Homo sapiens: one gene and its partners. The protein of the gene in region 2 purifies or fractionates together with the protein of the main gene of each other region. This does not show direct contact. Each region holds a gene or a part of one and is shown on either strand. Other genes may lie near its edges.

Evidence for each region.
Region 1: the proteins of STK10 (region 2) and COLGALT1 fractionate together in Homo sapiens (co-fractionation; one large-scale study listed by BioGRID). This does not show direct contact.
Region 3: the proteins of STK10 (region 2) and SPECC1 purify together in Homo sapiens (affinity purification with mass spectrometry, with the first as the bait; one large-scale study listed by BioGRID). This does not show direct contact.

The regions. Positions count from the first base shown.
Region 1 is NC_000019.10:17,575,294-17,580,418, reverse strand, and holds part of COLGALT1 (procollagen galactosyltransferase 1 precursor), read right to left. Parts: intron 3,225-5,125; coding exon 3,148-3,224; intron 3,059-3,147; coding exon 2,952-3,058; intron 2,463-2,951; coding exon 2,330-2,462; intron 938-2,329; coding exon 810-937; intron 1-809. UniProt on the Homo sapiens protein: Beta-galactosyltransferase that transfers beta-galactose to hydroxylysine residues of type I collagen. By acting on collagen glycosylation, facilitates the formation of collagen triple helix. Also involved in the biosynthesis of collagen type IV.
Region 2 is NC_000005.10:172,086,506-172,091,630, forward strand, and holds part of STK10 (serine/threonine-protein kinase 10), read right to left. Parts: intron 3,858-5,125; coding exon 3,727-3,857; intron 1-3,726. UniProt on the Homo sapiens protein: Serine/threonine-protein kinase involved in regulation of lymphocyte migration. Phosphorylates MSN, and possibly PLK1. Involved in regulation of lymphocyte migration by mediating phosphorylation of ERM proteins such as MSN.
Region 3 is NC_000017.11:20,200,504-20,205,628, forward strand, and holds part of SPECC1 (cytospin-B), read left to right. Parts: intron 1-3,829; coding exon 3,830-5,125.

The sequences.
Region 1 (5,125 bases), on a different chromosome or scaffold from region 2:
AGTTCAGAGGACAGTGGGGGTGGAGGTGGGCGAGGTGCCCTGATGGGGGGGCAGTCAGGAATGGAGGGGTGCAGTTACTATTCACATGGGGCAGTGTTCCCAGAATGCAGATTAGGGCACTGCACATGGAAGGGAAAAAAGAGATGGAGGAAGGGAGAGGACAAACCAGCCCACTTACAGAAGAGAAGGACGGCTCCAGTGCTGGAAACATGTTGGTGGCACTCCCATCCAGGGGCTTGTCTAAGACCAGGCGCCCTGGCCACGCCCCCACACTCTTCGGCCACACCTCCAGCTCTGACCACACCCCCATGCTCTTCAGCCACGCCCACAGGCTGCCCGGTCAAATTTTAGCCACATCCACCTCCACAGGCCTCAGTCAAGTCTCTAAGCCTTGACCAAGCCTGCAGGCTTCCGGCCAGGTCCCTTGAGTTCTGGGTGATCCTTCCAACGCCCTTCCCTATAGGCTACAGCCCTGACAGTGCCTTCAGGCCCAGGAACCACGTGAGCCCTCCTGCTACGCTTCCAAGGGTTGGCCACGCCTGCCACCCTGACCACACCCAGACATACAGGCTCTAGGCTCAGCTGCAGCGCTGTGGCCACGCCCGTAGGATTCAGCTCCACTCCGCCTCCCAGCCCCACCTCTAAGCCCTGGCCATGTACCTAGGCTCCAGTTCCACCCCACCTTCAAGCCCCGCCTCTAAGCCATGACCCATCCCCAGGTCCCAGCTCCACCCTGCCCCCACCCCCACCTCTAAGTCCTGGCCTTGCCCCAGGCCCCAGCTTCACCCCATCCTCAGACCCCCACTCACATGAGGTCCCAGTCCAGGCCCTCCCGCTCCACATCCCGCATGAGGTTCATCAGACGTCTCTTGAAGAAGATCTCAAAACGCAGGTCATCCTCAAACACAAGCGATTTCTGCAGCCCCCGGTCCACCACCTGAGGGAGGAAGCCCCGCCACATCACAGGGAGGCCAAGGCCAGGCCTGACCCTAAAGCACAGAGCTTTGCTTTGAGAAGGTTTGAAAGACCCGTAGAGAAGCCAGTGCATCTCCCTGCCTCTCCTAGCTCCAGGGACATCTGGACATCCAAACCTCTGCCCTCTGCCGTCCATAATGGATCTCAGAAGAGAAAGGCCTCCCAGCCCCTCAAATGCCCACGCCTCATGCACCTCCCGCCTTGCAGCCGCACACCCCCATTTGGCTTCACATTCGATAACAAGTTTTTCTTTTCTTTTTCTTTTTTTTTTTTTTTGAGACGGAGTCTCGCCCTGTCGCCCAGGCTGGAGTGCAGTGGAACGATCTCAACTGCAACCTCCGCCTCCCAGGTTCAAGTAATTCTGCCTCAGCCTCCTGAGCAGCTGGGATTACAGGCATGTGCCACTACGCCCGGATTTTATTTTTCTTTTTTTGAGATGGAGTGTCACTCTTGTCGCCCAGGCTGGAGTGCAATGGCATGATTTCAGCCCACTGCAACCTCTGCCTCCTGGGTTCAAGTGATTCTCCTGCCTCAGTCTCCCAAGTAGAGGGATTACAGGTGCCCACCACCACACCCAGATAATTTTTGTATTTTTAGTAGAGTCTAGGTTTCACCATGTTGGCCAGGCTGGTCTTGAACTCCTGACCTAAGGTGATCCGCCTGCCTCGGCCTCCCAAAGTGCTGAGATTACAGGCATGAGCCACCACGCCCAGCCATTTTTCTTTTTTCTGAGACACGGTTTTGCTCTGCTGTCCAGTCTGCAGTGCAGTGGCACGATCTTGGCTGACTGCAGCCTTAACTCCTGGGCTCAAGCCACTCTCCCACTTTAGCCTCCCAAATAGTTGGGACCACAGGTGTGCGCCACCATGCCCGGCCCTGATGGCCCAAGTTCGAAGCCTAGTCAGACACCCTCCTCCAATCACAGCCTCTCCCTCTGAGGGTGGATGAGGATGCCTGGGCTGGTGAGTGCCCCCAGCAGCACTGGGCAGGTGCTGGTTTAAAGTGGCTCTGTGGCCATGACTTCTAGTACTAAACATCAAGCACAGAGACCAGGCTGGGAGTAATGAGGATTTGTTTACAGGTCCCAGGCCCCAGACACCACCTGCTGCTCAAAAGGGCTCACCCCTACCCCCAGGCTCAGTTTCCACATTTGCGCAATGGAAGGATGGCAGGTACACCTGGGGGTGATACAGCTGGTGTGGCGCATCATTCACTAAAGAGAGGCCATGGGTCCCATGGCTGAGGCTGGATGCCTAGCCGGGGCTTTGGGGAACTCTTTCAACCCCTTTCCCGTCCAAATCTCCGATGAGATCTAGAGTCATAACTCTGGCCCCGCCCATCACTCAGGACACACCTCCTTCCAGATGTTGTAGTGGCTCAGGAAGCAGCCCAGCTCACCCTTGGTGAGGGGCCGGCCGTGGTAGGGGTCCCGGTAGCCAGGCAGCATCTGGATCCCCAGCGCCTCCACCTGGCTGGTGTTCATGGCTCTGGAGAGGAGGAGGAGAGGGTCACGAAGAAGGTTCACCCTGCCTGCCATTCTGCCATCCCCGGCCATTCCACCACCCCCTGCGGCGTTGAGCAGCTGGTCCACCTCTTGTAGCACTGGCACCCCTTCCGGGCACATGGGGCCTCACTCACCTGCACATGGTATACACTCGCGGGCAAACCTGCTCTCCTCCTCTCCTGGGGTCTGACTGACTTACCCCTCCACAGTCCCCACCAGTCTACACTGGCAGCATGCAAACCTACCCATTCCCCTGGGTCAGGACTCACTTGCCTTCCATGGTCTACAACTGTGAGGATCTGCCCCTTCCCCAGGGTCCCATTCACTTCCCCTTCAGGACGCCCACTGACGAGGTCTACATCTGTTTGGACACCACGCCCGCCCCCATCTGAATCACTTGCCGTCTACCAGCGAGGTCTACACCCACATCCACGTGCGGACCCGCCCCCCCACCCCCAGGCCTCGGACTCACTTGCCGTCCACGGCCTCCACCAGCCGGCACTCGATCTCCTGTGCCTGCAGCGCCCGCAGCATGCGCTCCCGCCGGTCCTGCCGCCGCCTCAGGTTGATCATGAAGACCTGCAGCCCGGAGAGTCCCCAGCCAGATCAGCCCCTGCAAACAAGGGCCCTCCAGCCCCCGCCCCGCCTCCAGGGAAGGCCCAGCTCACCTCGTCGAAGCCCATCTTGTCCGGTGTCTTGGTGGGAGCCGAGATGAAGCGGGAGGGCTCTGCGGGCGGGTGCTTCACTGTGGGGCACAGACGTTGAGGAGTCGCTGGGGTAAGGAGCCTCCAGCCTCTCTCCAACACGCTTTCCCCACCCACTCCATGGCTCCCAGTCAGACTGGCTCGGCCCACAAAGTCGACCTGGCTCCGCCCACATCAGCGCTGCCCTCTAGGAGCCCCTCCCATGTCATTTGAACCCTGCACAGCAGCCCAAAGCCCTGGCCACACCCCAGGCCCCAGCTTCACCCCGCCCCCAGTCCTGCCTCTCAGCCCTGGCCACACCCCAGGCCCCAGCTTCACCGCGCCCAAGGCCCCGCTACTCAACCCTGGACTCGCCCCAGGTCCCAGCCTCACCCTGCCCTTAGCCCCGCCTCTAAGCCCTGGCCACACCCCAGGCTACAGCTTCAACCTGCCCCCCAGCCGCACCACTCAGCCCTGGCCACGCCCCAGGCCCCAGCTTCACCCCACAGCCTCCCCCAGCCTTGCCTCTAAGCCCTGGCCATGCCCCAGGCTCCAACTTCACCCTGCACCCCCCCAGCCCCACCTTTAAACCCTGGCCATGCAACAGCTTCGCTCCGACCCCCAGCCCCGCTTCTAAGTCCTGGTCACACCCCAGGCCCCAGCTTCACCCTGCTCCCAGCCCCGACTCTCAGCCGTGGCCACGCCCTGGGCTCCAGCTTCACTCCGCCCCCAACCCTGCCTCTAAGCCCTGGCCACGCCCCATGCTCCAGCTTCACTCTACCCCCCAGCCCCACCTCTATGCCCCTGCCAACCCAAAGAACCCCCATTCCTACCTCAGGGCCTTTGCACATGCTGGATCCCTGCTTGAAATACCCTTCCTTTCCCTGCTCTGTAACGTTACTTCTCAGCTATGATGCCCTGGGCATGGGGGTCACCCTCCCCACTCCCACCTCCCTAGGCTGAGCCAGGCACCTCCTCTGGGCCCCAGCAGCACCTGGACTTGCACCACCAAAGCTCGCATCCTTGCTGCCCTAACCCCCTGGCCCTGTGCCTGTCTGTTGTGAGCCCTTTGGGAAGGACACCAGGTATGTCTGCTCACACTGGGCCCCTAGTGCCCAACACAGGGGCTTGGCACACAGCAGGCACTCAGTAATTGCTTGTAGAATGAACCAAGAAATGATGGCATGCTGTATATTCTTGATTGGCCTGGGCCTCAGCTTTCCTCATCTATAAAATGGGCCAATAAGCCACTGAGAGGTTTCACAAAGAGATGTCATGAGATCATGCACTATGTCATGGGGTGAACTGTGTCTCCCCAGTGCCAACCACCAGTACCCCAGGATATGATCCTATTTGGACACAGGGTTGTGTACAGAGGTCATCGAGTTAAAATGAGGTCATTAGGGTGGGCCCTAATCCACATGGCTTGTGTGCTTTTAAAAGGGGAAATCTGTAGCTCCTTGGGAGGCTGAGGCAGAAGGATTGCCCAGGAGTTCAAGGCTGCAGCGAGCTATGATGGTGACACTGCACTCCAGCCTGGGTGACAGAGACTCCATCTCCAAAAAAAGCAAAAAAGAAGGCCGGGCACAGTGGTTCATGCCTGTAATCCCAGCACTTTGGGAGGCTGAGGTGGGCAGATCATGAGGTCAGGAGTTCGAGACCAGCCTGGCCAACATACTGAAACCCTGTCCCCACTAAAAATACAAAAAACTAGCTGGGCGCAGTGGCTCATGCCTGTAATCCCAGCACTTTGGGAGGCCGAGGCAGGTGGCTCACAAGGTCAGGAGATCGAGGCCATCCAGGTTAACACAGTGAAACCCCATCTCCAATAAAAATACAAAAAATTAGCCGGATGTGGTAGCAGGCGCCTGTAGTCCCAGCTACTCGGGAGGCTGAGGCAGGAGAATGGCGTGAACCCAGGAAGCGGAGCTTGCAGTGAGCCGAGATCGGGCCACTGCACTCC
Region 2 (5,125 bases):
GAAGGCTGAGGCTCAAGAGCGAGGGAACGGCAGAAGCCGTTTTAGGGAAGGACAGGAGGAACTCTGCCCGGAAGCCTCATCAGTCTGAGAATGTGATAAATGCTCAGCCACATGGTTCAGATGCCTAGGTGTGACCCAATTCTCCAAAAACGCCAGGGGTCAGGTATGACCAGGGGCCTGGGCCAGCAGGGGATGATCAGGGCCTTCCACACCCCTGTGGTCTGGTGGCCTGGCCTAGTTTACAGGCGCTCAGACCTCCAGACCACGGCAGGCAAGCGAGAAAATCCCGGTTCCTGCCGAGCACCTCTTCACCTCCTCGAGGTCTCCCCTTTTGACCCTGAGTAGCACACAGCTGCTCTGCTCAGGAGGAGGGTGGGGAACCACAGCCAGGGCCAGAGAGCACTGCTTCTCCATGGGGTGTGGCCAATCTAGAATTTATCCCTGAGAACTTCAATTGCCCAGAGGGGAGGTGATGGAAACCCAGCTCTTGAGGTTGAAACTCAGAGTCCAGGGTGCCTCTCAGGTGACCATTAGAACAGAAGGTGGTTTCATCTGCCAAAGCAACCTGTGCCCTAGCCTCCCGACCCACACAGATGACACCAGTGTGTGTGTGTGTGTGTGTGTGTGTGTGTGTGTGTGTGTGTGTGTGGTGTATGCAGATACACTAGTGAAAAGTCTGTTTTTCCTCCCTCTGTCTCCTAGAGGGAGAAGAGATCCACAACATCTAAAACTACTTTTATTTGGTTTTGGCTTATTTATTTATTTATTTATTTATTTATTTACTTTTGAGACAGAATCTCACCCTGTCGCCCAGGCTGGAGTGTAGTGACACAATCTCGGCTCACTGCAACCTCCGCCTCCTGGGTTCAAGTGATTCTCCTGTCTCAGCCTCCCGAGTAGCTGGGATTACAGACGCCGGCCACCACAGCTGGCTAATTTTTGTAGTTTTAGTAGAGACCAGGTTTTGCCATGTTGGCCAGGCTTTTCTCGAACTCCTGACCTCAGGTGATCCACTCGCCTAGGCCTCCCAAAGTGCTGGGATTACAGGTGTGAGCCACTACACCTGGCCTATGCTTTCATTTTTTACAATTTATTTTTTAAATTTATTTACTTATTTATTTTTTTTTTTTTTTTGAGACGGAGTCTCGCTCTGTCGCCCAGGCCGGACTGCGGACTGCAGTGGCGCAATCTCGGCTCACTGCAAGCTCCGCCTCCCGGGTTCACGCCATTCTCCTGCCTCAGCCTCCCGAGTAGCTGGGACTACAGGCGCCCGCCACCGCGCCCGGCTAATTTTTTGTATTTTTAGTAGAGACGGGGTTTCACCTTGTTAGCCAGGATGGTCTCGATCTCCTGACCTCATGATCCACCCGCCTCGGCCTCCCAAAGTGCTGGGATTACAGGCGTGAGCCACCGCGCCCGGCCTTAAATTTATTTTTGAGAGATAGAGTCTTGCTCTGTTACCCAGGCTGGAGTGCGGTGGCATGAACGCAGCTCACTGCAGCCTTGACCTCCTATGCTCAAGTGATCCTCCCACTTCAGCCTCCCGAGTAGCTGGGACTACAGGTATGTGCCCAGCTAATTTTAAAATTTTTTTGTAGAGACACTAGGTTGCCCAGATGGTCTCGAACTCCTGGGCTCAAGTGATCCTCTCACTTCAGCCTCCCAAAGTGCTGAAATTACAGGTGTGTGCTGCTGTGCCCAGCTGCATGGTTAAACGTTTAAAAAAATATGAGTATTAGGCCGGGCGCGGTGGCTCACATCTGTAATTCCAGCACTTTGGGAGGCCGAGGTGGGCGGATCACAAGGTCAGGAGTTTGAGACCAGCCTGGCCAATACGGTGAAACCCCGTGTGTACTAAAAATACAAAAATTAGCCGGGCATGGTGGCGGGCACCTGTAGTCCCAGCTACTCAGGAGGCTGAGGCAAGAGAATCGCTTGAACCCGGGAGGCAGAAGTTGCACTGAACCAAGATAGCACCACTGCACTCCAGCCTGAGCGACAGAGCGAGACTCCATCTCAAAAAATAAATAAATACATAAAATTAAAAAAATTTTAATTCACATGTATAAAAATATGTGATTAATGTTCTAGAAATTTTCTCTACACTAACCATGAATTTACCCTGCAAAGGCCTGGCCCCCAGGGGACTCCGTGGCTCCATGGCCTCCCTAAGTGTTAAGCTCCCCCAACCCCTGCCAGCTACATGGTCCAGTGAAACCTGAAGGAATTCTCACACACACAGACCCAGTTAGAATCTCAGCTTTACCCCTGCCTAACTGGAAGACCCAGGGCAAGTGACTTACTTGCCCAGAAATAGTGTTTCCTCATTTGTTTAAAAAATGTGGAAATAGGGTCTCCCGAAGGAGGGCTGTAAGTGGGGGATGAACAACTGAAAAGTATAAAGCTGATCCTAGCAAACAGCTTTGCCTCACACCTTCCTCCCTGTTCCAGTCCTTTACCAACTCACTGGTTTTGCCTCCAAAATGTAGGTCAAATCTGACCATGTTTTTCCCTCTTCCCGGCCACTGCCCCAGCCTGAGCCCAGAGCCTGCCCATCCTAGTCAAGATCTCCCTCTCTCCCTCCACCAGTCCCTTAAACAAGCTGAGTAGTTATCCCTCAGGGCCTCAGCAACTGCAATTTCCCCTGGGCTCCCCCAGCTCTCCTCCCCTTATCCTTTAGGCCTGGCTCAGGGGCTTCCCTTGGAGCAGCCTCCCCTACTCCAAGCACTCACTATCATGTCACCTGTTACTTGTTTCATGGCATGTACCACAATCAGGGATTATCTTGTGTACTGTATGTTGGCCCATTAGGTGTAAGTTCTACAAGGGCAATGGCCTTATCTATTTGGGTCACCACCTTGTCTCCAACCTGGTGGGTTGGTGGATACATGGATGGATGGATGGATGGATGGATGGATGGATGGATGGATGGATGGATGGATGGTTAGGTAGATAGGTGGAAGGCTGAATGGGTAGATGAGTGGGTGGGTGGATGGATGACTGGATGGATGATTGGGTGGACAGACGGAAAGGTAGATAGGGAGTAGGTAAATAGATAGATGGGTAGATAAATGGATAGAAGGATAAAATGGACGGATGGGTGATTGGGTGGATGGATAGATAAACAGATGGATAATTCGGCAGATGAAGGGAAGGATGGAATGGTGAGTGAGTAGAAGGATGGGTGGATTGTTAGGTGGATAGATGGAAGGTGAGTGAGTGGGTAGATGAATCAGTGGATGAGTGGATGAATGGATGGATGAATGGATGGGTGAATGACTGGGTGGATAGATGGATAGGCAGACAGGTGAGTAGGTGGATTGATGCGTGGATAAATGAATGGAAGGATGGATGATTAAGTAGATAGGTAGATGAATGGGTGGACAGTTGGATGGATGGATGGAAAGTTGAGTGGGTAGATAGGTGGATGGGTGGAGGGGTGAGTGGGTGGAAGGATGGGTAGACGGATGGGTGGATAGATGAATAGGTAGATAGGTGAGTAGGTGGATAGATGGGTGAATAAATGAATGGATGAGTGGATAGATAGGTGAACGGTTGGGTAGATGGGGGAGTGCAGGATCGCAGGCAAAATGAGTTTCCTTTTGCCTCCTTGATTCCCCCACTTCATGCTGTAGACAGACAGCCCTCTCACCAAAGGACCAATGCCCACTCCTCTTACCATAGCCCCACCCTGTTACCACCATTGGTGGCCCTTCCCAGGCTTGCCTGAGAAATCTCATCTCCTCATCCTTCTTCTCATCTTCGCTGATGATCTTGGAGGTGGTGATGCTCACCTCCACACCATCCACCACAAATTTGCGTGTCCGCTTGAGGGTTTTTTTGTACAGTTTCGGGTCCTGGCCAGGGAAAACCATTAGACAAGTCTCAGCATTTCAGCTAAGGACCCATGGCTGTCGCAGCAGGTGAGGCCACAGCTCTGCTGGGCCCACAGCTTCAGAACCACCCCCAGAGAGATGTGGCCATCCATCGTCCCTCTTGCCTCAACTTAACCTAGGAGCTGGGGGTTCTGAGCTTATTCCCTTGCTCTTCCCTGATCTCAGCCTTCAGAAACTGTGCTGAGGCCTCCCCTACCTTGCTGCCAGCACCTCTCATGCATCCAGGACATGGTGTCAGAAAGAGCTGCGTTCTTGCCAGGCACGGTGGCTTACGCTTGTAATCCCAGCACTTTGGGAGGCCGAGGCAGGCGGATCACAAGGTCAGGAGTTCGAGACCAGCCTGGCCAACACAGTGAAACCCTGTCTCTACTAAAAATACAAAAAGTAGCCAGGCATGGTGGCAGGTGCCTGTAATCACAGCTACTTGGGAGGCTGAGGCAGGAGAATCACTTGAACCCAGGAGGCGGAGTTTGCAGAGAGCTTAGATCACGCCACTGCACTCCAGCCTGGGCCATACAGCTAGACTCCGTCTCTAAAAAAAAAAAAAAAAAAAAAAAAAAAAAGAGCTGCGTTCTAACCCTCACTGCACCACTTACTTGCTCTGTGTCTCTGGGCCAGCCTCTTGTCCTGTCTGAGCCTCAGCTTCCTCACCTGTTCAGGGAGGATAGTCACACTACTTGCCTCCCAGGGTGGTTGTGAAGATTCAGTGAGAGAACACATGGCAGGCACACAGAGCAGTGCCCACTCCCGGCCTGTGTTCCATGCTTAGCATTTCTTTCTGACAGTTATTACTGCAGACCACACACAATCCTCGCGCATGGTGCCAAAATCCAAAGGAGCCCGAAAACCAAAGGCTGTTTTTATAACTGGTTTGGTAGCCAAAGCTGACCTGGCCTGAACTCCCCACCTGCTAGGAGTCACCATGAGATTACGCATAATCGTCATCTTTTCCTGTGAGTAATCGCACACGCCACAAGTGATTGTGCAGGTGCCACCTGGGATCCTGGAGGTGTTTGTGTGTCATAATACGTGGTACCCTCTGGAAGTTCTCAGCTCTGATTCTGAAGGTGTCCCCATAACCCTCCCGCTCTGCCCACTGCCTCTGGCCTCTTGGTTGGTTTCAAAGCCTCTTTTTTTTTTTTTTTTTGAGATGGAGTCTCGCTCTGTTGCCCAGGCTGGAGTGCAGTGGCGCAGTCTCAGCTCACCACAACCTCTGCCTCCCGGATTCA
Region 3 (5,125 bases), on a different chromosome or scaffold from region 2:
AAAGATCCAATGGTGCTGGCTGAGCCAATCCCTGTTCCACTGGCCCTTCTCTCCACTGTCCCTTATGTGGTGCTGTGTAAGGAAGCATGGCCAGTCTCAGGACTTCAGAGTGCTTTGGTTAGCAGTGAGGTCTGACTCCCACTGCTTCAAGGAGGTGTCGTAAGCTGTAGGGCTGTTGCTCTTTACTTTTCCCTGTCAGTACCCACGAGGAGGTGTGTTTGGGCTGGAGGCCTGGGCTCACATGGTGGGTGCACAACCAAGACCATCATCATTGGTCTGATGATGAATTTTTAGCAACTCTGAACCTAACCTGTGCTCTGTAACAGTTTCTGAAATGAGGTGTACAGAGATGGGAAGAATCTTTTGGAAAACAGAGACAGACATAGTAAAAAAAAAAAAAAAGGAAAAAGAATAGATATAACAAAAATATGGCTGGATTGTACATTTCATAATACACATCCATTCATAAATATACTTTAGTTTCATGGTTTTTTAAAAATTCCTAGTAGTATAGATAAGGCAGAAGTAACACTTATGGGGAGAACAGACTGCAATTTGGCAGCAAAAGGAAGGTGTTAAACTGTAGCTGGAAATAACAGCAGACTTGATCTGTTCTATATTAATTTTTCCAGCTTCAAAACCAACAAACAATTGAAGGTTTAAAAAAAAGAAAGTGGCTGGGCACGGTGGCTCACGCCTGTCATCCTAGCACTTGGGAGGCCAAGGCGGGGAGATCACCTGAGGTCAGGAGATCGAGACCAGCCTGGCCAACATGGTGAAACCCCATCTCTACTAAAAAAAAAAAAACAAAAAAACGAAATACAGTAAATTAGCCGAGCATGGTGGCTCGCGCCTGTAGTTCCAGCTATTCGGGATGCTGAGGCAGGAGAATCACTTAAACTTTGGAGGCAGAGGTTGCAGTGAGCTGAGGTCGCACATTGCATTCCAGCCTGGGCAACAAGAGCAAAACTCCATCTCAAAAAAATAAAAAAAGAAAGAAAAAGTCAGCCTTAATTTAGTGATGTTATTAAGAATAACAAATGCCAGTGTGATGATCAGTCCTGGACTCTCAGGTTTGCCTGTTCTGACTAGAGTTATGGTGAAACTTTAGTTATCTTCCAGTTTTTAATACGGTCCTTGCTGCAATGACTTTATTCTAGAGAACTAGCATTACTAAAACATTTTAGTGCTTAGTGGTTTTTAATACTTATTTCACAAGAATAATTAAATAAGTCTTTTCCTCGTTGAGTGTGTAGTATGATGCAGGTTAGGTATCTGTGACACCTATAAGTAAGGCTGACCCATGAACAACACTAGCTTGAACTGTGTGGGTCCATTTATATGGAGACTTAAAAAAAATAAATACATTGGAAAATTATTTGGAGAGTTGCAACAGTTTGAAAAAAATTCAGATGAACTGGGTAGTCTAGAAATATGAAAACAATTGAGAAAAAGTTACATATGTCATGAATGCATAAAATACATGTAGATACTAATAATCAGTTTTATCATTTACTACCATAAAATATACACAAATCTATTATAAAAAGTTAAAATTTGTCTAAACTTATGCACACACAGACTGTACATGGTGCTATTCATAGTTGAGAGAAATGTAAACAAATATAAAGATGCAGTATTATAACTGCATACAATTAACTGTAGTACATACAGTACTCCTGTAACAATTCTATAGCCACTTCCTGATGTTGTTGCAGTGCGCTCAAGCATTGGGGGTAGCTGCTTGGAAGGTACTGTGATGCTAATCATCTCTGTGGGAGCAGTTCCTCTCTCCAGTACACCTCAGATCGCAGTAAAAAGTGACCTCTTGAGATTCTTGAGTATGTTTTGTTGTGTTTAGTGCAGTACCACAAACCTTGAATAACACTATGGGACCCATACAAAGTGCCACTAGTGATGCTGGCAGTGCTCCCTAGAAGCCAATAAAACCCCTGACAGCATTGAATTGCTTGCTAGATTGAGGAATGGTTGCCTGTCGCTTCAGACAGATGATTCATTTTGCAAACAGACCATGTAAACTTATGGTATTGATAAATACAGTATGGTACTGCAAATGTATTTCCTCTTCCTTATGGTTTTCTGAATAACATTTTCTTTTTTCTATCTCATTTTATCTTAAGAATACAGTATATAATACATATAACACAAAGTGTGTGTTAACTGTTTATGTTTTCAGTCAGGCTTCCGGTCAACAATAGGCTATTAGTAGTTAAGTTTCTGGGGAGCCAAAAGTTATACACAGAGTTTTGACTGCATGAAAGGTTGGCACCCCTAACCTCCAAGTTGTTCAGGGGTCAACTATATTAAAAGTCTATGATATACTCTTGGCTTTCCAGAAACTTAATTTGAAGAAGTTAATTTAAAAACCATAGTTTTCTATATATTAATTTGACAGTTCAGCCTTTATTAGGTCAAAGTTTCAAAAGAGCTCAGCTGTTAGATGTTTAGTAATGAATGCCATCAGCCTTTATGTCATCAGGATTCAGGATGTTTAGGTGTGTGTTTGCTCAGGGCTCAGAAATAGTCTTGGTGGTGGGTTTACAGCTGCCCATCTTGTTAGGTGTGGAACCTGCCTTAGCGCTGGGGCTGCTGCCAGTCTATGGGAACATTCCCTCCCGTGCCCTTCCTACACTGTAGAGGCCTACAGGTTGATGACCACTTCTGGGACCCTTCATTACACCTCTCACTGAAAGCATGTAGAGTTGTGTAAGTGACAGCAGCCAGCCTTGACTCATCAAATAGTCTTTCAGTTTGTAAAAAAAAAAAAAAAAAAGTCCAGGATTTTATTTTACACTGTAACATCTGAGGTGGGTTTCAATTCTAGAGCACAATGGAGACTGATGTCTGGGTTTCACCCCTAGAATTGTTTTTACATTGTCTGTGATATAGTACAGATGAAAATAAAAGAGAATTATTTACACCTTACATTTGCTGTTACAAGTATTCTGTATTATGTCTATATCATGTCAAGTAACATAGGTATGTTCTTATTTCATTTATTCTTGTTTCTCCATGTACACAAATGAGTACATCATTTCCACTTACGGCAAAAGTGATATGTCATTGTATCAGATCCATCTCTCAGTATTATCTGTATCTTCTGATTTCTTAATCAAATTTATGCTGTCAAAATATGTTAATGATGTTTTTTAAAGTGTTTATTGAGAAATTCACAAAGAACTTGTATTTTGTCAAAAGGCCATTGTTTTTGTTGCCAACATTATCAGTGCAGATGTACTAAATTGCAAGTTACAGAAAACCCAGCTCAAGGTGACTTATAGGAAGGGTATTTACTGGCTTGCCTAACTGAAAGGCCAGCTATAGGCCAAACTTCAGGGTTGATTTGATTTAGCAACTTAACAATGCTATTGAGAGTTTAGTTTCCTTCTTCCTTCTCTGCCATCTGCATTCCCACCTTCCTCTTGAAAGGGCAGGGTGGTTGCCAGCCATTCCCACACCTACACATTTTCTCACTCTGGTCCCGTGGTGTTTAATAGCTTGCCCAGAAAACCTTCCCTTTGTCACATTGATCTTAATTGAGTTGTGTGCCCATGCGTGAACCAGCAACTGGCTGGGGATGGGGTCATCCTGAGTAGCTCAGGCTTGGAGTCAGCCTCACCCAAAGTATAGGGCTGTGGGGAGGAAGCACAGAAACCACAGTCAGAACTGGGTAATTAGCTAGAGGAGGAGGAAATGGATGAAGAGCGACAGCCACTGTCCACTGTGCCATGTGATTTACAGTCATTTGGGTTTTGTTTATAAGAATGCTTGCTTTATTTTTTCATTTTTTTCTTCTTCTGTCTTTAAGGGGCCTTTACAACAACTAAACGGACAGGCATTCCAGCCCCACGGGAATTTTCAGTAACTGTCTCAAGAGAGAGGTCTGTGCCACGTGGTCCCTCCAACCCCAGGAAATCAGTGTCCAGTCCAACTTCTTCCAACACTCCCACTCCTACGAAACACCTGAGGACCCCTTCCACAAAGCCCAAGCAAGAGAATGAAGGTGGAGAAAAGGCTGCGCTTGAGTCCCAAGTTCGGGAACTTTTGGCAGAAGCCAAAGCAAAAGATAGTGAAATTAACAGGCTTCGAAGTGAACTAAAGAAATACAAAGAGAAAAGGACTCTGAACGCTGAGGGGACTGATGCTTTGGGCCCAAATGTCGATGGAACATCAGTCTCCCCAGGTGACACGGAACCTATGATAAGAGCTCTTGAGGAGAAGAACAAGAACTTTCAGAAAGAGCTTTCCGATCTAGAGGAAGAAAACCGGGTCCTGAAGGAGAAACTGATCTATCTTGAGCACTCCCCAAATTCAGAAGGGGCAGCAAGTCACACTGGCGACAGCAGCTGCCCAACATCCATAACTCAAGAGTCAAGCTTCGGAAGCCCAACTGGAAATCAGATGTCCAGTGACATTGATGAGTATAAAAAAAACATACATGGAAATGCATTACGGACATCAGGCTCCTCAAGTAGCGATGTTACCAAAGCTTCTTTGTCGCCAGATGCTTCCGACTTTGAGCACATTACAGCAGAGACACCCTCAAGGCCCCTGTCCTCCACCAGTAACCCCTTTAAGAGTTCAAAGTGTTCTACTGCTGGGAGTTCCCCAAACAGCGTAAGTGAATTGTCCCTGGCTTCCCTCACAGAGAAGATACAAAAGATGGAAGAAAACCACCATAGCACTGCAGAAGAACTACAGGCTACTCTACAAGAATTATCAGACCAGCAACAAATGGTACAGGAATTGACAGCTGAAAATGAGAAGCTGGTGGATGAAAAGACGATTTTAGAGACATCCTTTCATCAGCATCGAGAGAGGGCAGAGCAGCTAAGTCAAGAAAATGAGAAGCTGATGAATCTTTTACAAGAGCGAGTAAAGAATGAAGAGCCCACCACTCAGGAAGGAAAAATTATTGAACTGGAGCAGAAGTGCACAGGTATTCTTGAACAGGGCCGCTTTGAAAGAGAGAAGCTACTCAACATTCAGCAGCAGTTGACCTGTAGCTTGCGGAAGGTTGAGGAAGAAAACCAAGGAGCTTTAGAAATGATTAAACGTCTGAAGGAAGAAAATGAAAAACTGAATGAGTTTCTAGAACTGGAAC